Regions from separate parts of the Homo sapiens genome. Here all the other regions are linked to region 2. The links come from fine-mapping of genetic effects on plasma protein levels. A gene starts in region 2. Each other region holds a variant in brackets. All regions are shown on one strand. Distances are from middle to middle.

The links. PIP is the posterior inclusion probability: the model's chance that the variant is causal. Protein levels are from antibody-based Olink assays in UK Biobank. Linkage for the fine-mapping came from a reference panel and not from the study's own genotypes, which makes the PIPs less certain.
Region 1: its variant is fine-mapped to the plasma level of the DECR1 protein (UK Biobank, PIP 0.98).
Region 3: its variant is fine-mapped to the plasma level of the DECR1 protein (UK Biobank, PIP 0.97).
Region 4: its variant is fine-mapped to the plasma level of the DECR1 protein (UK Biobank, PIP 0.95).

What each region holds. Positions count from the first base shown.
Region 1 is chr8:91,054,678-91,062,841 of GRCh38, forward strand. It overlaps OTUD6B-AS1 (OTUD6B antisense RNA 1), which reads right to left. Exons shown (of 3, transcript NR_110438.1): 3 at 5,229-8,164. Among named protein-coding and RNA genes, the nearest start is that of OTUD6B-AS1, 11 kb to the right of the region's middle. The variant T/A (reference allele first, on the strand shown) is at 4,745.
Region 2 is chr8:90,000,502-90,005,170 of GRCh38, forward strand. DECR1 (2,4-dienoyl-CoA reductase 1) reads left to right here and starts at 976. Exons shown (of 10, transcript NM_001359.2): 1 at 976-1,060. The coding sequence starts at 992. RefSeq lists enhancers at 320-614, 1,463-1,602 and a silencer at 893-992.
Region 3 is chr8:90,036,097-90,044,260 of GRCh38, forward strand. DECR1 (2,4-dienoyl-CoA reductase 1) reads left to right here. Exons shown (of 10, transcript NM_001359.2): 6 at 745-844; 7 at 6,632-6,704. Among named protein-coding and RNA genes, the nearest start is that of DECR1, 39 kb to the left of the region's middle. The variant G/A (reference allele first, on the strand shown) is at 3,229.
Region 4 is chr8:90,508,498-90,516,661 of GRCh38, forward strand. The region is part of intron 3 of LOC124901975 (a long non-coding RNA gene); the gene reads right to left. It also overlaps the pseudogene RNA5SP273. Among named protein-coding and RNA genes, the nearest start is that of LINC01030, 93 kb to the right of the region's middle. The variant A/G (reference allele first, on the strand shown) is at 3,139.

The DNA.
Region 1 (8,164 bases), 1.1 Mb after region 2:
GAATGACCCTCACTGGGCACCGATTTGGCTGGCACCTTGATCTTGGACTTTACAGCATCCAAAACTGTGAGAAATAAATTTGTTTGTAAATAACACGGTCACAAATATTTTGTTATAGCAGCACAAATGAACTAAGACACTATGTAAGGTAGCATATTCACAGGTTCTGGGGTTTAGAATGTGGACATCTTTGGTAGGCCTTTATTCTACTTACCACAGAAGGATATATCGACACAATAACACAAAGGCAAGCCCCTTCCATGGTTTTTCTATGACTCTTAAATTTAGTCTAGTCATGAACTATTCAGTGCATATATTTTCTCAGAGAAAAATCTCAACTCTTCTTAATTTTTTGCTTAGTTAATATGAGTTGGTTAATATAAAGCTTTAAAATTTTAGAAGAAAGTAAAATATAGGCCAGGCATGAGGGCTCATGCCTGTAATCCCAGTACTTTGGGAGGCCAAGGTGGGAGGACCACTTGAGGCCAGAGGTTTGAGACCAGCCCAGACAACATAGAAGACAAAAAACTTAAAAGATTAAGCCAAGCGCAATGGCTCACGCCAGTAATCCCAGCACCTTGGAAGGCCGGGGTGGGCGGCACACATGTGTCCATGTGTTCTTATTGTTCAATTCCCACCTATGAGTGAGAACATGCGTACACCTACTAGGTCTTAAGCCTTGATTGTTCAGTCCTATCATGTGCACCAGGGAGAGGAAGAGAGCTAGTGTAAAAGCTGGACTCAGAGAAGAGCTGACCTTTCATATAGAAATGGGAACCTATTGGATGACAAAAGTAAAATGTAAGGGACATAGGGGATGGGGGGTAGAAGATAAGAAAGAAGAGAAATAAGAAAGTGAGGGAGAACAATATAATTAGATATTCATACCAGGGAAACAAAGGCATGACTAGAAAGGCAGAGGAAGGGTGAGCCAGAAATGAAATGTCGTATGTATGTGCATACAATTTATAATGCAAAAGATGCTTTGTATATAGATTCTCACTTCAGAGTAAACCTGTGTAATAAATAAGTGGGACAGATAATACTATTGAGCCATATATATCCAACCCTCAATTTCTTATCTCATGAAACATCTCCACAGGTTTATACCCAATTATACCACAATTGAGACTGGTTTTGCTAGAGGTATCCTAGGAAATAATAATTGGTTTGAAAGGGAAAGGTGGGGTATCAAAAGTAAGCAGAATACGTAGAATTTATTTAAGTATAGGGCAGGCTGTTACAGGGGTTGGTTAGCACTGTCCAAATGGTCAGGAAAAACTGTAGTGTGTTCCAGATCAAATCCGTACCCAAGGGCACCTAATCTAGCTGTGGAGGTACAGTGGCAAGGTTATCTAGGAAGAACTGAAATTCAAATCAGAAGAGCACTGAACCAGCTGATGAAGAATTAGAAGCCAATAATTAGAGGCCCAGGTCTAACCTGTGGAGAAAGGGTTAGCTTGGGCTCCACAGGTTGTTGGGTATTAGTGAAGTAGGTTTAAATTCAAGGAAGAGCATAAGAGTTAGCAGCAGAAATCAGAGCTGGGGGTGGGTGTGGCAGACACCCAGGCACATGTAGACTGGGAAAATATGGGGGAAAGCTGTGGCTTGGAGGACACAAGTTGATAAGCTCAGAATTCCTAAGCAGAGGCCAGATGATATCCTGACCATGGCCCTGGTGGATACGTTTTTTGTTTTGTTTTGTTTTGTTTTTTTAAAAAATGTATTTTGTCTTACTTATTTTTTTACACAGGTTTACAGGTTAGCCCTGGTCAAAAATGGGAGAGATGCAAAGCTGAGCCAATTGGGGAAGCCAAGGATTTTCATACTTTATTTATATCTCAAGTGAAAAAGTTTCTGACAATAAATTGGGTTATCTTTGATATTAACACTAGCTAACACATTTTAATGAGGGCTTACTACATTTTGTGAATCATCCCAATTTATCCTCAAAGCAATCCTTGAAACAGACACTACTAGTATATACATTTTACTGAGATAGACACTGAAACACTCATTATGTTACTAGCCTTAAGTATTGAAATTGGAAACCCAATCCAAAACATCTGGTCCCAAATCCTTTCTTTTAAAACATGTCTGCCTCTCATATAGAGATTGCTTATGTTGAGAAGTATGAAGCCATACACAGATGGTGGTAGCTATGATAATCCTTTAATAATTAGTTTTTAGTCAGAGTCTGCAAAAATGTATCTTGTTCAATTCTATTAGGATGCTCTCCTCTTGAATTTGAAAATTAGGCTGTTCACTTTTATCATTTCCTCAATTCTACACTATTCCTCTTCCTCCTTATCTTTCCACCAAGGCTATTTGCAGCTGGTCATTTATCTTAGCTGCCTTCCATGTCTTTGTTCTATTCTCCCAAAGGTTTTTACCTATTATTTGAATTATTTATTCCAATCCCTTCATATGAGCCATTAACATAATGAGATTCTTATCTTCACTGAAGACACAACTTTAAAAAAACCTCATAATTAAATTGGAGTAGATATAATACAATTAATATTTTTTTCCTTTCTAGGGTAAATTATACATATGTTGTATTTTGGTAGTCTGCATTATAATCTCTATTTTTATACAATAAAGAATTTTACTTTTGGTTTTAAAATTTGAAAAGGAAAATAGTCACTGTTCTAATAATTTCATGCACTACTATAATAGTTGTCAAGAGTAAACATAAAAATTTTAGTTACTGTTGCCTTACAATAACCTTTTAACTTGATAGTAATGTTTCACATTTTCCTTTGCTATGGTCTCTGATCAAATACTTGTAAATTTTCTGATGCAGTTTTTCTAGTCAAAACTATCTCTTTTTTTTTGTCAAAACTATCTTTTAAAGATTTTTTAGGAATATAGAATTTCTGTCAGAAATCGATGTTTGGGGAATCACTTTGATTAGCCCACTAATGATGGGCTGATAACCTTGCCACTGTACCTCCACAGCTAGATTAGGTGCCCTTGGGTACGGATTTGATCTAGAACACAGTACAGTTTTTCCTGACCATTTGGACAGTGCTAACTAACCCCTGTAACAGCCTGCCCTATACTTTCTGGGCACTGATATTAGAAGGTGGGGAAACAGAAGTCAGAAAATTATTCATCATGAGTAAAGGAAAAATACATTTTTTTTCCTCTGACAAGGAGATAAGACTGAGAAAGAAAGAAACAAGAATTGAAGAGAGAGCAACCAAAAAGAAAGAAAAAAAGCAGCTAGAAAGACCAGTAATTTGTGTGAAGCAGCAGTAACAAGATAGAAAATAGAATAGAAAAACATCCCTTTCATTATCCACAAAGCAAAAACTACACAAAAATTAACATAATAAAACAGTGTACTAGCTAAGACTCTCCTAACAAAATATTCAAACTATAAAAGAACATTTAAAAGGGCCAGAACAACTGCATAGATGAGGAAGTAAGTTTAAGGATGATAAGAAGGTTGGAAGAAGTTGGAGTTCTGATGAGGGTATGACCATAAAGAGGCAGTACAAGGGAGTTTCTTCAAGGTGATGGAACATTTTTGTGCCCTGATTTTGGGGTGGTTACACAAATCTATACATGCAGTAAAATTGTACAGAACACACAAAAAGAATGCTTGTAAAACTGGTGAAATCCAAATAGTCTATGGCTAATAGTATTGCATCAGGGGCAGTTTCCTCTGTGTGCGTGTGTGTGCGCATGCGCGCATGCACACGTGTTTTAATTTTCAATTCAGGGGGTACATGTGCAGGTTTGTTAGATGAGTATATTGTGTAATGCTGAGGTTTGGGTTTCTAGTGAACCCATCACTCAAATAGTGAACATAGTACTCAATAGACAGTCTCTTATCCCTTGCTCCCTTCTTCTCCCCTTTTTGGAGTCCCCAAAAAGGGTCAATTGTTTCCATCTTTATATCCAAGCATACCTATTGTTAAGCTCACATTTGTAAGTGAGAACATGGGTATTTAATTTTCTGTTTCTATATTAATTCACTCAGGATAATGGCTTTCAGCTGCATCCATGTTGTTGCAAAGGACATAATTTTATTTTATTTTTTTTTACGGCAGCATAGCTGGTTGAAGAGTATAAAGGAACTCTATTTTTTTGGCAACTTCTAAGTGAGCCTAAAATAAATCAAAACATAAAGTTTTCCAAAAAAGGCACATGCTAAATGACTCATGTATCAACGAAGAAATCAAAAGAGAAATTAGTACTTTGAATTGGAAAAAAAAACACAACAAACCAAAATTTGTGGAATGCTCTAAAGCAATCCTCAAATAAAAAATTATCCCATGAAACTGTCTGTATTAGAAAGAAAAAAAATTTCAAGTCAACAGCCTCAGCTTCCACTTTAAAAAACTAGGCACAAAGGAGCAAATAAAACCTAAATTTAGCAAAGGAAAGGAAATAATAAATCTGAGAGAACTGATGTGTTCAGAGGGAGCATGGCTTTGACATCTTAACTTCAAACTTTAGCCTTCAGAATTATAAAATAATACATTTCTATTGTTTTAAGCCACCCATATTTTGATACTTTGTTACTGCAGGCCAAGGAAACTAACACAGCTTGTAAGGATCACGCAGCTGCTGTTTGTATTATGATATTTATATTAAGTGGATTTATTAACAGTGGTCACATTTGAGGACTGGAGTTAGAGAAAGGAATTCTTAAATTCACATACATATTTTATTTAAAAGTAATGTTATTTTAAGAATATTTAAGTAAATTATATATGGTAAAATAGCTTCA[T/A]GTTGTATTTTAAGGATAACTTAAATACTAAAAAATTAAAGTAACTTCTATACAAGGATAAAAGAGTGTACCTGTCTGTAGAATAAGTAAATAAGAGCTGTACTAACTAGTCAAATGAGTATAACTAAGATTTTAACACTGTTAAAAATGACATATCTTTTCCCAATTTCTATTCGATAATTTATAACTTTTGCTGAAAAAGTAAATCAAATATTTTAATTTGTAGCTTGTGATTAGATAATACATTTAATTTTTCTTTAAAAAAACTAAGGAAGTAAAGGTGGAAATCTTTGATGTGTTTTTGTTTTCCCTTTCCCAGTGCTTTCCATTCTTAATTCTACTCACCATGTTACTCAAAACAGGCACCACTAATTACCCAATTTCAGTATAATCAAAATGCTAGAAGGAAATAAAGTACCTTAATGACATGTCTTAAGCCTTCCAAACCTTGATAGCGTAAACCAAAAAGCATCCGAGACAGGACTCAATCAATTTAGAATTTTATTTTGCCAAGCTTAAGGATATGCCCGGAAGAAAGAAACACAAATCCACAGGAACAATCTATGGTTCATACCTTTTTAGAAAGATGATTTTGAGGGCTTCAGTATTTAAAGGGGGAAAGCAGGCTGGAGGGGAAAGAGAGAGGATATGGTCCCATTGCTGACTCCATGTGTTGCAAGAGAAAAGGAGCAGGCTGGGGAATAGTCAATTAGGTAATCCTCTTACGCTCAATAAATTGGCACTTTACATAAGGTGAACATAGAGTACCTACCTATGGAGATATCTGACCTTTTATCTGTAGCTATTAGCTTAGGAACAAAAGCGAGCAGTTTCTTGCATGACTCAGCGTTCAGCTTACTTTCTTCCTTTTGGCTTTGTGAATTGGGGTACCGAGATTTTGTTTTTTTTTCCACAATGGGAGAATCATAATGACAAATTTATAAATATAATATATAATTTTTCTTACCCTTTGTGAAATTCTTCATTTAAATTCCTAAAATTTTATGAGATTAAAATACATTTAGTAACAATCAACTTTTTTAATACAAAGATTCTAGAAAAGCTTAAGGTACATTATTAGCTATGGTCATTCATTCTGTCTTGAAGTTTAATAGAAATGCTTTTTTCAGCACCGAACTGTGATCTTCAGGACCATCCTTCCCTCCTTTCCTCTCTCCCTCTCTTCCTTCCTTTTCTCTTGTTCATTCTTTCATTCTTCCTCTTTTTTTGAGGGGTTGGAGTAGAAGGGTAGGCATATACAATTGTGAGGTCTGGAATCTACTTCATATAAGGACAAGGAGCAACTCTGGATAAAAAGAGAGTAATATACATGCTTTATTTGCCTGCAACTTGTGGGAAAGAGCATCAGAAGGCAGGAGAGGCACTTGGAAGGGGAAGTGAGAGAACATTGAAGATAAATCCCACTTCTTCTGTGGTTTTTTACTAGGGTGGATACTCATGTACTGACAAGCAAGTATCATCTTTAGCAGACTCTACCTGAGATAATGATCTGCTTTTATTTGTCACTGATTTTACTTTCCACAGGGTATCAGGATGAGGAACCTTCAAATCATGCATCACATTGAATCTCTTGGTGGCAAAGGTAGCATGGAGGTGGCACATAGCATCTGTGGTACAGGTAGGAGATTGCTAACCCTTGTTCAAGATGACATTGATAGGCAAATAGCCAGGAATATGCTTTTCTCTTGGAAGTGCCTACTCCACTTACTCTGAAAGGCTGACTCCTCACGATTCAGATCTCTGCCTACATGTTACCTTCTCAGGTAGATCATCTCTGAACAGATTCCCACCCCCATCCCATATACCTTATTATTCTGTTACAGTACTCTATTGGTTTCCTACATAGTACTTAATATAATTTGTGCTTGTCCATTTTTTTGTTTACTTACATATTGACTAATACATTTATTTACTTGTTTGTTACAAGTAAATAATGTCTTTATAAGAGGAATATGCCTTTTTAGCTCTCCAACATTTGCCCAGTGTTTATCGCAGTACCTGGAGCATAGCAGTTTCTCAATAAATATCAGTGGAAAGGAGTAATTTAAAATTTAAATTTAAAAAATCCAAACATGAGGCTGTAATTCTTATTGTGATTCTCAAAGATCCTGATTACTTGGTCGGGATTTTGATGGAGAAGCAGGAAGAGAGACAACATGTATTTCTGCCTCCAGATTAAGTAAATATTGTAGAAGAAGGAAAATAATTATTTCATTTATTAATCCTAGCGTGCATATTTGATATCTCTTAATATTAAAATAGTTCCTGCTATCTCTTGTATTTGTAATACTCCTCATGTTTATCTATTGCAAGTATATATTAGCACTTATGGTATTTCAAGAAATAGGTAGTACCGGAGATCCAATGAGATGCAAGACAACCTGCCTCCTTCCTAAAACTGAAAAGATGTTAGTAAACACTGACTTGGAGTTTTTTCATAATGGCATCTTAAATTGTATTTTTTTATACATGCTTTTTTTGGCATACTTAGATAAAAAGACTATTCTTCACTTCCATAAAGAATTATGCTTTCTCTTATTTTTTTTGAAATCTGTGTCTTTTTGGCTTGTGTTTTCTTACCTTTGGTAGAAACATGGATATCAAAACAGTTTACCTTTAATTTCACTATAAAAAATAACAACTGTTCAAATGCATGTAAGCAGCAACTGACATTTGGCCTCAGTGATGAGGCAACAACAGAGAACAGCAGAACTTGGGAACCTGCAGAAGACATGCACCAAATAAAGGGCACACTACCCCTGCTACTCTATAATTTCAATGTTTGTCAGAGCTCACATTTGCAAGAGAACTAGAAGTCTAGATTTCTTTTAACATGAAATGATCTGATTTTTAAAATGTTTGGGGGCTAAATTAAAAAACCAACAAAGCATATGTGGCAACACTGTAGTAACAGGTCAACAAATATTATGTTAGACCAGATTTAGCCCTCAAGATGGCTGTTTCCTCCATCCTACGGGGTACTTTTCATTTTCAGCAGAGAGAAACTTTGACCACTAACACTTGGGAATATTTAAGGGGAATAATGACTGTCTTGCCAGTTCCTTTCATAGACCATAACAGGTACTTAATAAATAGTAGTTGAGTGGACACACTGAATGCATAAGTCATTCACACGTTGTTACTGTGGTTCAAGAATTAGAACAATTTAGTGTATATGAAGAGAGAAAATTGGACAATAAAAATTATTTACATATTTTGTAACCATAACAGTTAACAACTTCAAGCACTTTCTCTGTGCTAGGTACCATGCAAACACTTTATAAGGATCACTCCACCAATTCCTTATAATGATTCTATGTAGTAAGACTATAGCTGTCCTTTAACTTATCCAGAGCTGGTAAGCTGCAGAGTTAATAAGAAAGATATAAAATAATTCTG
Region 2 (4,669 bases):
TTTATTTCTGTAACCAGTTACAGGCAGAAGGCCTGGAAATTATCACCAGACCAACTCAAAATTACAAAGTTTTTCAGAGTTTATATACCTTATAAGCTATATGTCTACATGTAAGTGTACATTCCTCTGAAGATATAAATGTTTCTTTATCAGCATTTGGAACATGCCAGGCAAATAGTAAACACTCAATATCATCTACCATCAGCCTCAGCCTGGGGCCTCACACCCATCTTCTTTTATCTAAAATTCTGAATTAGCTATGAATATTCTCATTTTACGAATGAGGAAAGAAATGTGATCTGAGCTAATGCCTTGTGTCAACAGGTATATTACACTAAGATGGAGAATGATATACTGAATCTGTGTTTGCCTTTAACGTGTGTTTAACTTCGAGAAAAAAGCCAAGGCTGGGCGGTCGCAGTCACGCTGCATCCGGCGACAGGGGGCGGTGTGTCCTGCGAAAAGTCAAAACGCCGGAAGCTGCCCTTAGTGTTTTTCAGCCTCTTGGTCTTAGGGAAAGTGAGGCCGTGTTTTACATCCAACATATTATTATTCTGATAATATGTGACTTGGCGCCACGCGCACTCTGCACTTAAACACGCACTTAAGGGATAAACACATACGACTGAAAAAGAGTTTCGCCCTTGATAGGCAGTGTATGGGGTGCGCAGCTGCAATCTGCAAACCCTTGCAGGGCGCGGGGTTTCGTACACCCGCTCAAGGACGCAAAGAACCTCCATTCTCTGCCATACAAAGCACTCCTGGCCCAGAGAGCAGGAAAGAGCATCAGCTAGGCCCAGCTAGGCGGCGCCCTCGGCCGGACTCTGAAGGTCAGGGCCGCTGGGCGTCCACGCCGCCTGGGTCCCAGTCCCCGTCCCATCCCCCGGCGGCCTAGGCAGCGTTTCCAGCCCCGAGAACTTTGTTCTTTTTGTCCCGCCCCCTGCGCCCAACCGCCTGCGCCGCCTTCCGGCCCGAGTTCTGGAGACTCAACATGAAGCTACCGGCCAGGGTTTTCTTTACTCTGGGGTCCCGGCTGCCCTGTGGCCTCGCTCCTCGGAGGGTAAGGCGGCCGGGGGCGCGGGGAGCGAGGACAGGGCGTCTCGACGCGCAAAGAGAGAGGACAGGGCGTCACGGGGGCTCGGGGAGCGAGGACAAGGCATCCTGGGGCGCAAAGAGAGAGGACAGGGCGTCCCGGGGGTTCGGGGAGCGAGGACAGGGCATCCCGAGGCGCAGAGAGAGAGAGGACAGGGCGTCCCGGGGCCTCGGGGAGCGAGGACAGGGTGTCCCGGGGCTCAAAGAGAGAGGACAGGGCGTTCTGGAGCGCTAAGAGAGCACAGAGCAACCCGGGGAGCGAGAGAGAGGACAGGACGTCTCGGGGCGCAAGAGAAAGGGCAGGAAGTCTTGGGGCACAAAGAGAGGACCCGGCGTCCCTGGGGCTCAGGGAGCTAGGACAGGGCGTTTTGGGGCGCAGAGAGAGAGGACCACCAGGTCCCGGAGCGAAGGGCAACGCCGGGAGTGAGCACCGGGGCCCGGGTCGTATTCCACTGTCAGATGAAGCCCTGATGTGTGTAGGGGAATAGGGAAGAGACGTGATTTTCGAAGTTTTCACAGTTCTGCAAGTTTCCAACTTGTGTGTAAATAGGTAGAAAGAGGTAGGGAAGGATACGGCGCCCGTCCACCCCTTAAGGAGTGAGAGGGGATCAGGCCGAGCGAGCACTGACCTTTGACGTCCTTTGTTGTGAGGAAAGTCCATCTATGTGTTAGTTATGGAATTAAACACTAATACAAACAAATTATCATAAAAATGAAACAAAAACAAAACCCCAGCTGTTTATAGACTCCCCTTCCCAGATGTATAGCTGGGAGAGGTCCGTCTCACACTGGCTTCCCCCTCTCTCTGGCCCACACTCCTGTCACCATCTCCATTGCACCCATAGTGGAAATAGCTAGGAAGTGAAAACAGCTAGGAAGAAGAAAGAGAAACAAAAACAAAAAGAAGCAATAATATCCAAGACAAGCCCTCCCCACATCTAAATTACAAAATTGTTATAAGTAAACTAAAAAGCACATTTTCTTTAGCCAGGTAGAAAAATTAATATGTCAACTGTGAAAAAACTTCTTTTGATTTGATAGAATAGACAGCCATGGTGTTGTTTTTCAAAAAATATGGGCAGCAGTAGTTCCAAATAGGAATACAAAGAATTAGTATGGTGGTTCCCTCAAGTAAGGTATCTTTCTTTTAAAAAGTGAGATTTGTTCAGGGTTAGGGTTTTGCTGATTTTTTTTCTCTCCCTGTGAAAACTGGGTTATAGATCATTATAAAGGAAGCCCATATTTTCTGATACTTTTCAGAGACATTTCTCATTTGAAATCTACAACAGCTCTGTGATGTCTTCAGAGATTTCATTTTTTAACACACATCATTAGGATTGTAGCAATAAGGTCATACAGACCTTATCCAAGCTCTTCTGACACCATTAGACAATACAGTTTGAGAAGGAGAAAATGAACTCATTTAAAAATTAATTGTAATCTGACAATTTTGAAATTCCTTTGCTGAAGAAAAATATGGAAGTTTTGAGGTTCAGGGTTGGGAGGCAAGAGAGGTACCTGTTAGTGTGGTTTGTCCCCTTCCTAGCACATGTAGCCTCAAGTTTGAATTCCTGGGAGAAGAAAAGTCTTTACATCTGTGATGTGGGAGGTTGTTCCAGGGAACATCATGTTTTTGTGGGCAAATACAAGTTGTTATAATTAAAACCCCTAATTTGAATATTTTTGTTACCAAGAACCAAGGCAAATGTTTAATTTGTTATAAAACCTGTTTGTGAAGTGCTGTGTTAAATTGTGCTGCTGGCTAATAGGCCTCATTTCAATTTAATAAATATTTATTGAGGACTGGCTTTATGTCTGGCCCTGTGCTATGCCCTGGGACTCAAAATTTAAAAAATACGAGCCCTGCTCTCAACTGTTCTCAAGTTGCTCTCAGTTCTATTGAGGAAAACATTCAGTCATTCAGTTGTTTATGAGGAAACACTAATTAATTAAGTACCTATTAAGTATTGGGCATTCTTTGGCAATTTGTGGTTGAAAGACATTCCTGCCTTCAATGTACTATAGTCTCATATATGTATTTTAAGCCACAAATAATAACCAATGAGTAGGCCTTGAAATCAATTTAGTGGAGCAAAACAGCACTTTGGGAGGCTGAGGCGGGTGGATCATTAGATCAAGAGATCAAGACTATCCTGGCCAACATGGTGAAACCCTGTCTCTAGTAAAAATACAAAAATTACTGGGTGTGGTTTCACACGCCTGTAGTCCCAGCTACTTGGGAGGCTGAGGCAGGAGAATCGCTTTAACCTGGGAGGCAGAGGTTGCAGTGAGCTGAGGTCGCGCCACTGTAGTCCAACCTGGCGATAGAGTGAGTGAGACTCCATCTCAAAAACAAAAAAATGGAATAGAATAGGATATATCTAAATTCATCTCATGTAGTAAGGTTGTTCATTTTGTGAAACTTTAAAAAAAAAATTTACCATTCTTCCTTTTTTGATTCATTCTTTGATTACTATCATGCACACTGCCATGTTTCTTTTCCTTTTGTTTTTATCAAGAGTAATAACTATCCAACCTGATCAACATGGTGAAACCCTGTCTCTACTGAAAATATAAAAATTAGCCGGGCGTGGTGGCGCGTGCCTGTAATCCCAGCTACTCAGGAGGCTGAGGCAGGAGCTACTCAGGAGGCTGAGGCAGGAGAATCACTTGAACCTAGGAGGCAGAGGTTGCAGTGAGCCAAGATCACGCCATTGCACTCCAGCCTGGGCAACAAAGTGAGATTCTATCTCAAAAAGAAAAAAAAAAAAAAGAATAGTAACTATCAAGAGTAAAATCACTATTTTTAGAAAAATGATTCCTGGCCAATATTCAGCAATACAGTTAACAAAGTAAGATATGACCTCAAACTGGCCACCTAGAATTAACTTGGGTTAGCATTTGGTGTATATCATTCCAGGCATCTGTTCTGGTAAAAGGATGGATAGGCATAATTTTACTTGGATGTCACATTTTCCCTTAGTCAACATTGTTTCATTGTTTTCTCACGATGAATATTGTCTTGGAGCAGTATAAAACCAACTAGATGTGTTTTCTTTATTTTTTTTAAATCTGGAAGCCTAAGTATTTCTTTATTCAGTGTAAAATTCTGGAATATAAGCTCTATGCAGGCAAAGATTTTCAACTGTTTTGTCCACTGTTTATACCTAGAACAGTGCTTAGCATAGAGTAAACATGTAACAAATATCTGTTACATGAATGAACGTGTGTACTGTGTTGCTATGAACATGTGTATGTTGCTATATAAATCACATTTCTTGCTATGGTTCACAGTCAGAAAAATCTGAAAAATGATAGTCTAGTGAGTCACCAGCAGACATCAATAGACTGTGAAGATGCAGATGTGTATTATAATGCATATATGACCCAAACTGTACATACCTAGAGGAGGCAAGGAAAGCTTCATGGAGGAGGTGGCCCCAGGAGCCTGCTGTTAAATCAGGAGTTGGAATTTGTGTGGTCCCAATGGCAATATAGACCTAAGGAATAGCATGTATCAAGAAGTGAAAGAGTGGCTTATTTATAAAAATTCAAGTGGTTTGTTTGGTATTGTGGA
Region 3 (8,164 bases), 37 kb after region 2:
GCTTATTTGTCTAAAGACTCTTTGAGACTCCATGCAGCTTTATGGAGTTCTATTAATATCTCTGCCTACTTTCCTCCTTGGAGGAACTCTTAGAAACCTTAGTTTCCTCAGGCTCCCCAAACCGATCTCTATCTTCTTAACTCAGTGTGAATGCCATTTTCTGCTTAGATTCCTCCTCCTCATCCTTCCATCTATATAGTATCTTTAGGCAAAAAGCTAGGGTATCTCAGGGCTTAGTCATTTTCCTTCTATCAGAGTCATAGTCCTTCCCTGCCTGCTGTGCAGTATCTGTATATAATTGTAGCATATGTCTTACTCAGTTTTCTTGATGTTTACAGCAGAAGGGTAAGTTCATTATGGCTGGAGGCAGAAGTCCCTGCTAGTTTAAGTTTAATTCTGATTTATTCTTATTCAAGTAGTACTTAGTTAATGGGAATCCTGACCAGCTGATTATACAAGGTGCAATAGGGGCATGCCTCTGAGATTTGGGCTTTCGTATTGACTCGCCAGGCATACATTCCAAGTAAGTGCAGATTGGGCCATCCTAAATCATAAGATTAGTAGCAAGACATATCAATTTTCTTAGGTTACTCTCTCATTAATTTAGAGTGAGTGAAGTTTTAAAAAATACTTTAGTTTTTCTTATACCCTCTTTAATCAGATCCCATTTTTATAAATAATGTTTTCCTTATGTGTAGTGATACATCTATATTGCTAATCAACTGTATCCTTTTAAAATTTCAGGAGCAGCATTTCTTTCTATTACTACTATCTATGCTGAGACTGGTTCAGGTTTTGTAGTACCAAGTGCTTCTGCCAAAGCAGGTGTGGAAGCCATGAGCAAGTAAGTACTTCCTTGTCAATCCTGTTGCTGAACATAACTAATACAGTTGGTGGCTCAGGGAACTGTATTCCTGCTTTCTGGTGTCCATCCAGAGAAAAGTAAACAAAGACTTGGATTCACCATGAGACATACATTTTATCTCCCAGATAAGTCCTATTTGTCTATAGCAGCGCTGTCCTGTGGAACTTTCTGCAGTGATGTAAATGTTCTGTAAATATGCACTATCCAGTATCCACATGTAGATATTGAACCCTTGGAATATCCCACTGTGACTGAGAAACTAAATTTTAAAAATTAGTAGCTGTATATGGCTAGTGGCTACATATTAGACACCACAGGACTATAGCTTTTTTGCTCTCCCATAGATCTTTATCAGTGCCATCCCTAACCCCTCTCATAAGCACACGTTTATTCTTTTATTGTAGATACTGTATAAGATTAATGGGACTAACACAGACTATGAGCACTTCCCAAGTCCAGTGGCCTTTTCTCAGCAGAGTATAACTGCTTTTTTTTTTTTTTTTGAGACAGGACTTCAGTCTGTTGCCCAAGCTGGATTGCAGTGGTGCAATCACAGCTTATTGCAGCCTTAATCTCCCAGACTCAAGCGATCCTCCCACCTTAGCCTCCCAAGTAGCTGGGACTACAAGCAGGTGCCACAGCGCCTGGCTAATTTTTAAAATTTTTTTGTAGAGATGAGGTCTTGCTATGTTGCCCAGGCTGGTCTGGAACTCCTGACCTCAAGAAATCCTCCTGCCTCAGCCTCCCAAAGTGCTGGGATTACAGGCATGAGCCACTACACCCAGCCATGATTGCTTTTTGAATTTGTCCTCCACTGGCCTTTTCCATTGTCTTTATTATAATGGGGCTTCTCATCATTTCATTGCTTGTCTGGCTTGCTATAATCATGGTATATTTCTTTACTACCAGTCTCTTCCCCCTGTATTTTGTATTCACATTTTCACCAGAATTATCTTTCTAAGAACATATATGTCTGCTCACGACACTCCCCAGCTAAAAATCTTAGATCATTTCCTGTCACTCTTTGGAATAAAAGCCAGAACTCACTATGGCATTCTAAACAGACTTGTCTCTGGCCATTGTTAATTAATTTATTTATTCAATAAATATTTATTGTGTACCTTATATATGCTTCGTCCTAGGGATATGATAGTGATGGAAATAGAACAGTCCTCGTTGTTAGCTGAGCTTAAATTTTTTTACTATTCCATTTATTATTTCCATGCTTTAATTTCCATTGAACTGTTCCATGTTTCCCTAAACTTACCATACAGCTTTCATATGTCTATGGCTGAGTTATATTGTTGTTGGAATTTTGCTGTGATGTTTTGCTTACTTCCTTTGAGATGTTTTCTCTGTAATCATTTCCTCCTCTCTGTGCCTTAAAACTTTGTTTAATCCAATCTAGTGAGAGGACAAACACTAATAAATAGATTCTAAAATGAAGGTAATATACCAATGTAGCAGAGAGAGAGAGCAGGGCATCGCGGGCCTTTTTTTTTTTTTTTTTTTTTGAGACGGAGTTTTGCTCTTGTTGCCCAGGCTGGAGTGCAATGGTGCCATCTTGGCTCACCGCAACCTGTGCCTCCTGGGTTCAAGCGATTCTCCTGCCTCAGCCTTCCAAGGAGCTGAGATTACAGGCATATGCCACCACACCTGGCTAATTTTGTACTTTTAGTAGAGATGGGATTTCCTCCATTAACGTAACATTAAACAATCTGACTTCCCCACTTGGACCAGAAGAGTCTGGTCCGTAGCTGGTGCTTCATGCTTGTTGAGCTGAATTATGGTACTCTTCTTTTAGTAGTCCCAGAGCATTTTTAATATTTAAGTCAGTAAATACACATTAGTTTGAGATAGAAAGAAATATTTATTCACAAGCTGAATCTTAGTCTGAAAAGAGATAATTACCATTTTTTAAGGTCAGGTAGTGTTGGAAATAAAGGATGAGAACTTGACTATTTTGGCAGCATTTGTTCAATGTCAATATTTGTTTTGTGAGGACTCTTCAGTCTTGTTAGAGCTTTTTATCTCATGTCCTTTAAGAACTGATTTGGTGCTGCTTTTATTGTGTTCCTGCATATAATAGATGCTCATTAAACATGTGCCTTCCTTTACAGCTTGAGTTCCCATCAACCTTCTTCTCATACTTTATAGTACACAGTCTTACTAAATAAGGCATTATAGGTTCCCAAATTCTACATGTTGTTTGGGCCCTTGTCCTTTACTCATACTGACCCATATGCCTTGGCTGTCTTCCTTCTCCATCTGTATTAGTCCGTTCTCACTCTGCTATGAAGAAATACCTGAGACTGGGTAATTTATAAAGAAAAGAGGTTTAATTGACTCACAGTTTCCACATG[G/A]CTAGGGAGGCCTCAGGAAACTTAGAATCATGGTGGAAGGCACCTCTTCACAGGGCAGCAGGAAAGAGAATGTGTTCCAAGTGAAGGGGTAAGCCCCTTATAAAACTATCAGATCTTGTGAGAACTCACTCACTATCATGAGAACAGCATGGGGAAAACTGTCTTCAGGATTCAGTTATGTCTACCTGGTCCCACCCTTGACATGTGGGGATTATTACAATTCAGAGTGAGATTTGGGTGGGGACACAGAGCCAAACCATGTCACCATCCTACCTTCTTAATCTCTCAGCTCCTCCTTTCCCCTGCCTCTTGCAGCAAACTCCTAATCCTTCTTCACCCATCAGCTCAGAATGTTACCTTTTCAGAGAAGCCTTCCTTGTCACTCCCACTTAGGTTCTTCTTCTTTTAAGCAGGTATAGCTTACATCACACAATTCCCAGCCTAGTAACTGATTCATTATATAACCAGGCTCACCTCTCTTGAGAGGGAGGGACTCTCATTTGAGAGCAGGGACTGACTTTATTTGAGGCTAAGCAATATTTATAGTATTGACACATGGTAAGTATATAATAAACATTGGTTGAATGAGCAATAATAATGGCTAACATATTGCATATATTGTTCTTAGCATCTTAACATGCAGAGATAACTGTATGAGGTGGATTCATTATCAGATTACAGTAGTTCTTCAGTATATCAGCTAGCTTAATGACAGTTGAAAGATCATGCTAGCAATTGAACAAATGTATCTGGCACACCTCTGAGCACAGAGAGGATGGCTTTTCCTCTAGGCAGATTTTCTTAACAGGTTGCTCAGTTTTTCATAGGATAATATAGACTCTGCTCAGTACAGTAATTCTATTAAGACATGAAGCAATTTAGAGTAGATACACTATAAATAAATGCCCAGGGTAGCTATGGCAATGAACTTTGTCAAAAACATCACTCAGAGAAGCAATTTTTATGTATGTTCTGTCTGAAAGAGATACAGCCCACCCATTTCTCTAAAATACATTCATGGATTAAGTCAGATTAACAGGCTATCTTGAGATTACGTGTACCCTATTCTGTAGAACTGGTTTTACTGAATTGGCCTTTGAAATGATGCTATAAGACTATTAACGGATGTCTGATAGTTTCATAGAACTTAGCGCATTTTTAAAATTATACTTTAAGTTCTGGGATACATGTGCAGAATGTGCAGGTTTGTTACATAGGTATACATGTGCCATGGTGGTTTGCAGCACCCACCAACCCGTCATTTACATTAGGAATTTTTCCTAATGCTATCCCTCCCCTAGCTCTCCACCCCTTGACAGACCCAGTGTGTGATGTTCCCCTTCCTGTGTCCATGTGTTCTCATTGTTCAGCTCCCACTTATGAGTAAGAACATGCAGTATTTGATTTTCTGTTCCTGTGTTAGTTTGCTGAGAATGACAGTTTCCAGCTTCATCCACATCCCTGCAAAGTACATGAACTCATCCTTTATTATGGCTGCACAGTATTCCATGGTGTATATGTGCCACATTTTCTTTATCCAGTCTATCATTGATGGGCATTTGGGTTGGTTCTAAGTCTTTGCTATTAAGAACAGTGCTGCAATAAACATATGTGTGCATGTGTCTTTATAGTAGAATTATTTATAATCCTTTGAGTATATACCCAGTAATGGGATGGCTGGGTCAAATGGTATTTCTAGTTCTAGATCCTTGAGGAATCACCACACTCTCTCCCACAATGGCTGAACTAATTTACAGTCCCACCAACAGTGTAAAAGTGTTCCTATTTCTCCACATCCTCTCCAGCATCTGTTGTTTCCTGACTTTTTAATGATTGCCATTCTAACTGGCATGAGATGGTATCTCGTGGTTTTGATTTGCATTTCTCTAATGATCAGTGATGATGAGCTTTTTTTTTCATAGTTTGCTGGCTGCGTAAATGTCTTCTTTTGAGAAGCGTCTGTTCATATCCTTCCCCCACTTTTTGATGGGGTTGTTTGTGTTTAAGTTTAATTTGTTTAAGTTCTTTAAGTTCTTTGTAGATTCTGGATATTAGCCATTTATCAGATGGATAGATTGCAAAGCTTTTCTCCCATTCTGTAGGTTGCCTGTGCACTCTGATGATAGTTTCTTTTGCTGTGCACAAGTTCTTTAGTTTAATTAGATCCCATTTGTCAAGTTTGAACTTAGCCCATTTTATCTATTGCAAGGATACAGTGTCTTAAGGAGATTGTTATACTGTACAATTTTCCTTTTGTAAGTCTAGAAAGACTTAAAGCATTTTTCGTATTAGAGACAATTGTGCTTTTCCTGAGCAATTAGCTTGCTTTTTCTTTATGGGTACTGTGGATTGTGTAACTGATTAGGCTTACCTTTTTTGTATAGAGTCATGGGAAGAATAGATACAAATTTGTGATGTGACTATTGCAGTTATATGGAACATCACACACTTCAGTACATTTAGATATTAGCCTCATTCTTGGCTCCGTTATATTTCGTTATCCTGGCTTTTCTCTCTCTTTATCTTGCTTTTTTTCTTTCCTTCTTCCTTTCAAATTATCCTGTCTTCCTCATTTGCATTATATGAATTCTTTTAAGCTACCTCGTCATTATTTGAAATTACATTAAGTATATATACACACAAATATACATATGAATGTAAATTCCTAAAATGAATTTAGATTTTAAAAGAGCTACCTGTAAAGTAAGCTTTTAAAACAAGTTCCTTTGAAGTTCTTTGTTTGCTATTAGTGTTATATTTTTCTTCAGGACATTAAGCAAGATTTTGTTAGATTCCTATTTCCTTTCAAGTTTGGTTCAACAATTATATTAAAGCCTAGTTAGACATGGATGTGGTTTATATTTTCAATCGATGTACTCTTTTACTCAAATAAAGCACTTGTGATATTACAGACATTGTAATCCAATGTACAGGGCTATGAGTAAAGTTATAATGAACTTTGTAACTACAAGACTGAACTCCAGAAAATGTGAGGGAAGGGCATGAAGCACTCACGTTTTTATGTGAATAATGAATACCTACTCTAAAAATGTGTATTGACATTGGACAAAAGTATATATTCTAAACTACAAATGGTAGGTGGTGTAGCATAGTGGTTAAGGACACTAAAATGTAAAGGTTAGGTTGTACAGTAGAGTGACTAAGGGTACAGACTGAAGCTAGACCTCTTGAGATTGACAAATTGGCCATATGACATAGAGAAAATGATTTAACCTCTCTGTGCCTTAGTTACATTATCTGTAATATAGGGAACAATAATAGTACCTACCTGTTGGGGTTGTAATCTCTGGCATGTAGTAAGCATCTAGTGAGTCTCAGTTATTACTGTCTTTAACATATGGTATAATATTTCAGAATGTATGTTGTTGATTTTAATTTTTAGGTCTCTTGCAGCTGAATGGGGTAAATATGGAATGCGATTCAATGTGATTCAACCAGGGCCTATAAAAACCAAAGTAAGTTGTATTTTGCTTGTTATCACATTGTGAATGATTAAATAATGAAACACTGATAGGTATATTCTGGTTGTTGTGTAAAGGACTTTCCAGAGATGCCTAGGTTTAGAGCCCTGGTTCTAGGGAAGAGGCCTTTGCCTTTATTCATTATCGAATATAAGAAATAAGGAGGCGGGCAGGAATATAGCAGCTATGCAATTTCTTCATAATGTCAATTTCAGTGTCTTAATCGTTTGGGATCTTTTATACCATCAATGTTGGCACTTTGTCTGATTTGTTTCAGTGGTCTGTTATTGTCCTGTATTTGTTAACTTTCATGACATTTTAAAGGCTCCTACATTGTCTGACATCCTTTTTTAAAAAAAATCAAGGAAATGTAACTATATTTTTAGTTTGAGAGATGCTTTGGTAACTTATTATATAGGCTTTGTCTTGTTATAGGTAGGTAGCATTTTCCTTGACTCATGCTTGTGCCCTTTCACTCTCAGTCAATTATGCATGTCATCTAACGCCCACATGTCTCTGATTATAAGTCCTTCTGACAGCATAGATTTCACCTATAAGTAATAATCCTTGTGGATACTCATTGCAACTTGTAATTATCTCTAATGTTGTTACAGATGTTGCTCAGAATATCCACACCTTCTCTGCTCTCTCATTATCCCAAAATAACTTCACTCACACTTCTCTTGGTTTTCACCTAAAGCAAGTATTTATAATGCCAACCAGATGTAATGTTGAAAGACCAGGAAAAATTTGGTAACTTGTTTCAGTTGTGTAAACATATTGGAAAATAATACTAAAGGACTTTTGGGTTATAGGTAGCTCTGGGTATTAAAAATAACTTGGAAATGGCCATATTAGTTTATTTAGCAGTTTAAAGGATGGGAAATAGAAACAAAAACTTCCTGAGTGATTGAAACTTGTTGACTATCTTATTTATCTGACAATTCAATACTAAACAGTCTAATAAAATTAGTGGAAAGAAACTTAAAAACATACATTAAAACACATGATTCAGGGTGGCCCTGTCCTAAGCATATCTGAAAATAGGCTTATAGACACAAACGCTTCTCTCCAAGACCCCAATATCTAGGGAAAAATCACCTGCATTTTATTTATTTAACCTATATTTATTGACTGTTCACTGTATCTACGGGTACTGAGAAAGATACAGAAGTATCTCTGAGAAAGTGCTTGCCACTAAGGAGTTTACAGTCTAGCCACTGAGATAGGAGTTGTACCCAAATAATAACTACTTACTGTTAAAGAGATTAAAAGAAAACTGAAGTGTAGAAACTCCCTAGCATGCACTTTTTAGAACCAGGACTGGGACCAGTTGCAACCCCTTGTCTCTGGGCTTTATAACCTCCTGGGAAGAACTGGAGGTCTGTCATGGAGTCCCCTGAGTGTTTGTTCTGTCTTATGGCTGCATTATTGAGGAAAACTGCCACCTAAAC
Region 4 (8,164 bases), 510 kb after region 2:
CCACACAAGGATACAGTCATGAAGGATGCAATTCTTATATTCAATTTGCTAACTATCTTAGGATAATTATTATGTGAACACAGAAGAAGGGTGCCTAACGTAATCTGGAAATACCACAGAAGACTTCCTGAAAGAAGTGTCTTGGCCTGAGTCTCGAAGAATGAGCAGTTATTAATTAAATGAGGTTAGTAGGGAAGAATGCTCAAAGGAAAAACAACCTGAAGATAAGGACGCTATGTTTCAGCGCTGAAGGGCCTGGTCATTAGGGAAATGGAGACCTTCTGTTCCTGCTCCTTGCCGTTTCCACCCACTTCACTTCCTCTCATTTTCCTCCCTTTGTTTGAAAAATAGTTAAGACAAACATTTCACCTGTCCAATAAGCCAGTAAAGAGAGAAATGGTAAAAATAAAAGAGAGGAAAGGAATACATTATGGACAGATGTCTACTGAGAGGTGAGAGAGGCTCAGAAGCAGGGCAGGCACCAGAAGTTTAATTAGCCATGGATAGGAAGATGGTAGCCGTTCAGAAAGCAGATCAGAAAAGACTTACATGAAAGTATATTTAATAGAGTGGTTTAGGTCAGGAAATATAAATTGCTACCTGATGCTATTTTTCTATTGTTTCCTGAGAATGTAGAACTTACTGAGTAAACTGGGTACTTAAGGGCTTACAGAAAGGTATGCAAGATAAAGTTCCTATCTTTGTGTAATCTAACAGAAGAGAGAAGACACATATTCCAATAATGATTATAAAAGAGAATGAGTGATAAGTATGATGAGATAATGAAAAATAAAGTGTTAGGGAGTTCAGAGATGGGGATATTCTTTCAGGCAAGGATGTTATTGCTTATTGATTTATAACTGCCAGATAATAAAGGTAATTGCACATTGGTAAAAATTGGAGTCTAATCTAAAAATCAGATGAGTGGATAAATAAGTCAAACCAAATTAATCACCAAAGTGAAAATTAAATATTCACCACCAGTATGTTCTCCAATACACAGGGGCTATTGCTTTTCTATTAGTTATAATAATGGGCTAAATTGTCTACTCTAAATAATCTCTTTCTCTTTCATCTTCTCTCCCTTCATCACTCCCTTCTTCCTCCTCTCCTCTTTTTTCTTCTCTGCCCTTTTCTTATCCTCACATATTTGAGAATCTATTAAAGTTCTCTGAGATTCACAGAACTGATCTTACTCTAGTGACAAGCACCAGAGATCTCACTAGAGGAATTCTAACAGGTAAGTTTGCAAGAACTAAAGAAGAAAAAGAAGAAGGAGTAACAAATAGCATTGAATATAGGAGAGAGAAAGGTATTAAGATTAAATTAAGAAGGAGGAAGAGACAGAATAAACCAAACTCTGGCTCTCCCAGGAGACTAGGGAGACTGAGATATAAGATTATTATGATACACGAGAACCAGGAAGTAATCTTTCTATTAATAAAAAAGAAAACACATTACTACATTCTATTTGTTTTTTCTTCTTCTTCAGATGATGGAGACATTGAAGGAGGCTCAGAAAATACTTAGTCAACAAGCATTTATTATCCCTCTACCCCAGAGGATATTTGGCAATGTCTGGGGACATTTTTGATCTTCACAACTGGGGAAGGAATGCTACTGGCATCTAGTGGGTAGGGCCAGAGATGCAGCTAAGCATCCAACAATGCACACAGCATAGCCCCCACAGCAAAGAAATAGCCCCAAATGTCAATAGTGCCAAAGTTGAGAAACTCTGCCCAGAACGCTCTTCCTCCAGTCACCCATTTCCTTTAAGTCTCTACTCAAATATCATCTTAATGAGGCTTAGCCCGACTGCCTTCTGTGTAAAATTGTTACCCGTCTCGGCACTTCCTCAGCTCCTTCTCTGATTTTGTTTTATTGTAGTACTTCTCACTGTTGGCTCTACTGAACCATTTACTTATTATTTTATTATCAGCATCTCTCCACTGAAATATAAATTCTCTGAGGGTGGAAAATTATTATTGGATTGGCTGTTTCTGTTTTGTTCATGGTTGCAGCTTTCCCAGTTCTCAGTAAATATTTGATATCCGGGGGAAGAAAAGAATGGGCTCTGGGGTTAAGAACACACTTTGGGGGTGAGGCATGGGGTTATCTAAAGTATCAGTGGAAATACAGTCTAGAGGTTGGGAGAAGAGTTTTTACAGAGCAAATACTACTTTTGGACAAGGGAGCCTGATTAGAAGTTAGGGTAGGCAGAACCCCAAAAGACTCTACAAAGGATTTAGCTTCCTGAGTGTGAGGCAAGGTTATATCTCAAAGTATGAACCTGGTTGTATGTGATGTTTCTGACCCCTTTCTCTCTATCTTTCTCTCTATCTTTCTCTCTCACTCATAACCAGAGGGCATTTTTCCCTCTCTCCAGCTTTTTACCGCATTACTAACAAAGATTCAAAAAATGGCTGCACCAAATTCAAGACAAAGATTCTTTTCTTGGAGACATCTGTACAGGGTCTTTTAAAAAACAAAAAGCTTTCAAGCTATTAGATAATATCAGCCTAAAGGGAAGAAGTGAAGTAAAATTAAAATGAATGAAAGGAGGAGGAATTTGGAGGGAGGAAGATGAGAAGATGCAGTCACTCTAGGGCAGAATCTCAGAAGATAAAGAAGTCTCGAACACCCTGAACAGGCCTGATCTTGTCTGAATGTGGAAGCTAAGCAGGGTCATGCCTGGTTAGTACTTTGATGGGAGACCACCTGGGAATACCGGGTGCTATAGGCTTGGCCAGGCATGGTGGCTCGTGCCTGTAATCCCAGCACTGTGGGAGGCCCAGGCAGGCAGATCACTTGAGGCCAGGAGCTCAAGATCAGCCTGGCCAACATGGTGAAACCCTGTCTCTACTATTAAAAATACAAAAATTAGCCTGGCATGGTGGTTCACACTGGTAGTTCCAACTAACTACTTGGGAGGCTGAGGTATGAAGATCACTTGAGCCCAGGAAGCAGAGGTTAGAGTGAGCTGAGATGGTGCCACTGAACTATGGCCTGGATGACAAAGCGAGACTCTGTCTCAAAAAAACCACACCCACACCCACACCCACACCCTAACAGAGTCACTGCTTGGAAATGACTACTGATCAACAGTCGCAGTCCCTGAACCCAGTCACAAGCCTCCTG[A/G]GCAGCAGGTAGGAAGGGAGCTTGCGTGATGGCAAACAGCCAAGACAGCCCTAAGGTTCCCTGCAGTTTGGCTGAACTTTAGACAGGCTTCTCCCTAACTCTAGACCCTGACCTCTCTTTTCTTAGAGCATTTGCTTTAGAAAACTTATATTTATAAATGCTTTATCTACCCCTTTGAGATATAAATCTTTTAAAAAGCCTCTTGCCACCAGTAAATGCAAGAATGTCTTTCTCGAGGACCTAGAAACCAACTCTTTGAAATGGAGTCATCAAAGAAGATGGCACCTCTATTTTCCAGTCTCTTTGTGAGGGTAGGAGCCTAACTTTAGTGGACACCTTGTTCTTCTTGTCATGAAGATACAAAGTTAGCCACATAGTGAGAAAGACAAATATTAATTAAATTCATAGTAATATATAATTGCAATAAGAAAAGTACCCCAATGGAATAGAACACAGATCTCTGAATGCACATATCAAAGGAAACTAGCCTAGATATTTGGGTGTGGAAGAACGTTTGGGCTGAGAAGTGAAAGTTGTGAAATGCTAGGAGTCAACAAGGTGAAGGGAGTGTAAAGGGACGAGGTGCTAGTGAATGTTCTAGGAAGAGGGATGAACACTAGCAAAGGCCCTGTAACCAAAGAAGGCATGGTAATAAGAGCTCAAAGAAGACTGTGATGGACCCAGGAAAAAGGGGAAAAGCTAGCACTGAATAAAACTAGAGAAGAAGACATAATAGAGAGCTTTTTCTTAATCCTAAGGACAATAGATGAACTCTGAAAGGCTTTAAGCTTGAGCAGGGGGAGGGGATATAATATTTTCGTTAAATTGAGACCAGATATAATTTTAGGAATCAGGAGGTTCTTGAAATAGTTCAGGGGATCACTGATGATGGTTTAGCTAGAGATAAGTAAAGTTGATGAATCCAAGATGCTGAGAAAGCAATATGACAGGTCTTGGTGAAGGATTGTTACAGAGATTGAGAGAAAGGAATGTCTTGTAGCTGAAGAGGTGTTTTGATTGTGCACAGGATACAGAGGGGCCACCCACTGAGCAGTCTGAGAAGACACTCTTTGCAAAAAAGCCTTAATATTGAATTTTGCTTGGGTTTATAATTGACTGTTCCCATTTTTATTAATATTATTATTTAATATAGACCAAAATCTCAATACTCTTATTAGAGAAAAATTCTCAAAAAAAGTTCCAAAAATCAGTATGCAGAAAATTGATACTGAACCCCTTCTTTACACCATATACAAAAATCAACTCAAGATGGATTAAACACTTAAATGTAAAACCCAAAGCTATAAAAAACCTAGAAGAAAATCTTGGCAATACCATTTAGGACATAGGCACAGGCAAAGATTTCATAACAAAAATGCCAAAAGCAATTGCAACGAAAGCAAAAATTGACAAATGAGATCTAATTAAACTAAAGAGCTTCTGTGCAGTAAAAGAAACTATCATCAGAGTGAACAGACAACCCACAGAAAGGGAGAAAATTTTTGCAATCTATTCATCTGACAAAAGTCTAATATCCATAACCCACAAGGAACTTAATCAAACTTTACTTCTCTTTAGCTAAACAAAGGATATGAACAGACACTTCTCAAAAGAAGACTTACATGAGGCCAACAGACATATAAAAAAAAGCTCAACATCACTGATCATTAGAGAAATGCAAATCAAAAGCACAAGATACCATCTCACACCAGTCAGAATGGCTATTATTATAAAGTGAAAAAACAGCAGATACTGACAAGGTTGTGGAGAAAACGGAAAGCTTTTACACTGCTGGTGGGAGTGTAAATTAGTTCAATTATTGTGGAAGACAGTGTGGTGATTCCTCAAAGACCTAGAGGCAGATATACCATTTGACACAGTAATCCCATTACTGGGTATGTACCCAAAGGAAGATAAGTCTTTCTTTTATGAAGATACAGGCACATGTATGTCCACTGCAGCACTATTCACAACAGCAAATACATGGAATCAACCCAAATGCCCATCAGTGATAGACTGGGTAAAGAAAATGTGGTACATATACACCATGGAATGCTATGCACCCATAAAAAAGAATGAGATTATGTCCTTTGTGGGGACATAGATGAAGCTGGAAGACATTATCCTCAGCATACTAACACAGGAACAGAAAACCAAATACTGCATGCTCTCACAAGTGGGAGCTGAATTATGAGAACACAAGAACACATGGTGGGGAACAACGCACACTGGGGCCTGTCAGAGTGTGGGGTGGGAGGAGGGAGAGCATCAGAAAGAATAGCTAATGGATGTTGGGCTTAATACCTAGGTGATAAGATGATCTGTGCAGCAAACCACAATGGCACACATTTACTTATGTAACAAACCTGCACATCCTGCACATGTACTCCTGAACTTAAAAGTTAGAAATAAAAAAAAGAAAAGCAATCAGACTCTAATAGATAAATGGACAAAGAATATGAAAAAAGAATTCTTTAAAAAGCAACTATAGTTAATAAATATTTGAATACATGCTCAACCTAATTAGTAATAAAATAAATGCATATTAATGTAATAAAATAACTTTTATAATAATAATTTTTTTTAGATGAAGTCTCTGTGTCACCCAGTGCAGTGGCATGATCATAGTTCACTGCACCCTCAAACTCCTAGTCAAGTCATCTCACCTCAGCCTCCCAGAGTAGCTGGGCTTACTGGTGCGCACCACAATGCCTTGCTAATGTTTTTTCCCAAATGGGGTCTCACTATGTTGACTAGGCTTAGTCTTAAACTGACTAGGCTGGGTCTTAAACTCCCAGCCTCAAGCAATCCTCCTGCATCCACTTACTTGTAAGTAAAACAAGATGAAAACCTTGCTGGTGAAGATAAATGAAACAGGACCTCTGAAAAAATGCCAATAAGCATATAAATTAATACAGTATTGTAGGGAAAAGTTAGCAATAAGTCTCAGGAGGTTTTTTTAAAATATTGATGGTCCCATGCCTAATAATTCTATGTGTGGGAAAACATCTAATGTAACTGACCAAAACTTTAGATACAGACTTATGTGCAAAGATGTTCATCACAGACACATGTAATTGCATAATTGCAAAGAAAGAAAAGAAAAAGGAAATGAAATAGTTAAATAGTTCTAATTCCCCAAATTATAAGTACATAAGTAAATCATGGTATATGTATATGTTGGCATATTATGTGATTGTATTAAGTAATAATTGTGAAGATTTCTTAACAACATAAAAAATTATGATATATGAGCTGGATTAACCAAAGAATACAAAGTTGTAAGTACCATACGTCAATTCCATTGAAATGCATAGATTAAAAACTGAAAGACTGTATGTGAAGTATTAATATTGGTTAATTCTGGGGGCTTTACAGTTAACTTATTTTCCATATAATTTTCTGTATTTCCCAAAGATGCAATAATGAATACATATTACATTTTAACTAAGCAAATACATCATGTAAGTCTGGTGTGATATACAGTTCAGATGAGCTCTCAGAAAATTTCCAGTCTGTGATCACAGTAGTATCACTTTAGCAATCATTAAGAACAATTAATCTATACTCATTGGAGAATAAATTAAAATACAAAAGAATGTAGTAGATATAAAGAAGTCATTGCTTTTCATATGATAAAATACAGTTTATAATTAGCATCTTTGTTATTTTTCCTTTGATTTTGTTTCATGTGTAAATTGGGTTATAAATTGGATCTTGAGTTATAAATTAGATCTTATCAGGTTTTTCTAGCCCACATGACACGTAGTATAAAGTAGATATGGGGGCAATAGAGCAATCTCCTTTCTTTACATCAGTGAGAAAATAGAAATCTGTTGTCTTTTGTTTAGACATATGACTGATTTTATGTGAAGACTGGGATCAAATATGACCTTCAGTTTCATTCAGACACAATTATGATAATAGTGTAGAATACTGCTACAAAATAATTTGAATATATTGCTACCTCTATGTGATTATTTGTTATGCTTATGTTGTCATCTTCATGTTTACATTACTCTCCAGAGCGGGTCTCAAACTTTATCAGGTGTCAGAATCACCAGGCTAGAGGGCCTGTCAAATCAGATTATTATAGTGCACCCTCACAGTGTCTGATTTGGTAAGTCTGGGGCCACTTATGAATTCCCACTTCTAACAAGGTCTCAGGTGATTCTGATGCTGCTGGTCTGAAAGCCACTGCTCCACACTGATCATTTCAACTGGTATTGTAAGCTTACTTAAAGCAGAAGATCATCTGTTTTCATCAATAATATTTACTCTAGTCACTTATTTTTTGGAGGTAGGGGGATGGGAGTACTTCTCATTCCCTTCAATGGAAATTTTTGATAACAGATACTAATGGCATAAGCACGCCTCCACCTCCAAACAGAAATAAGGCCACAGATCAGTTATATGAAATACAACACTGGTGCCTTTAATTCCTGTTACCATGACTGCAGTATGCCCAAGGAATAGTGGCACATCTCACATAAACATTGGGATTATGTGCTCCTTCCTCAATGGCACACATTAATGAATGAACATGAAGTTTTTTTGTAATAAAACTCTCAGAAGGCGATATCAGGGGATTATCTGTAAAATGTGTAAAAGTTGTCATCAAAGAAAAGATTAAGTATTATATTCTGAGAACTTTCAGTCTATACTCCAAGCCTCTCTAGCAGAGTCAGAGCTCTTTACTCTCAGCCTGATTTTAAATGAGTTTTATAAAAAGTATAAAGTCAGCCGGGTGCAGTGGCTCATGCCTGTAATCGCAGCACTTTGGGAAGCTGACACAGGTGGATCATCTGAGGCCAGGAGTTCGAGATCAGCCTGGCCAACATGGTGAAACCCCATCTCTACTAAAAATACAAAAAAATAAATAAAATAAAATAGCTGGGCATGGTGGCGCATGCCTGTGATCCCAGCTTCTTGGGAGGCTGAGACAGGAGAATCGCTTGAACCCAGGAGGTGGAGGTTACACTGAGCTGAGGTGGTACCACTGCAAGACTCCATCTCAAAAAAAAAA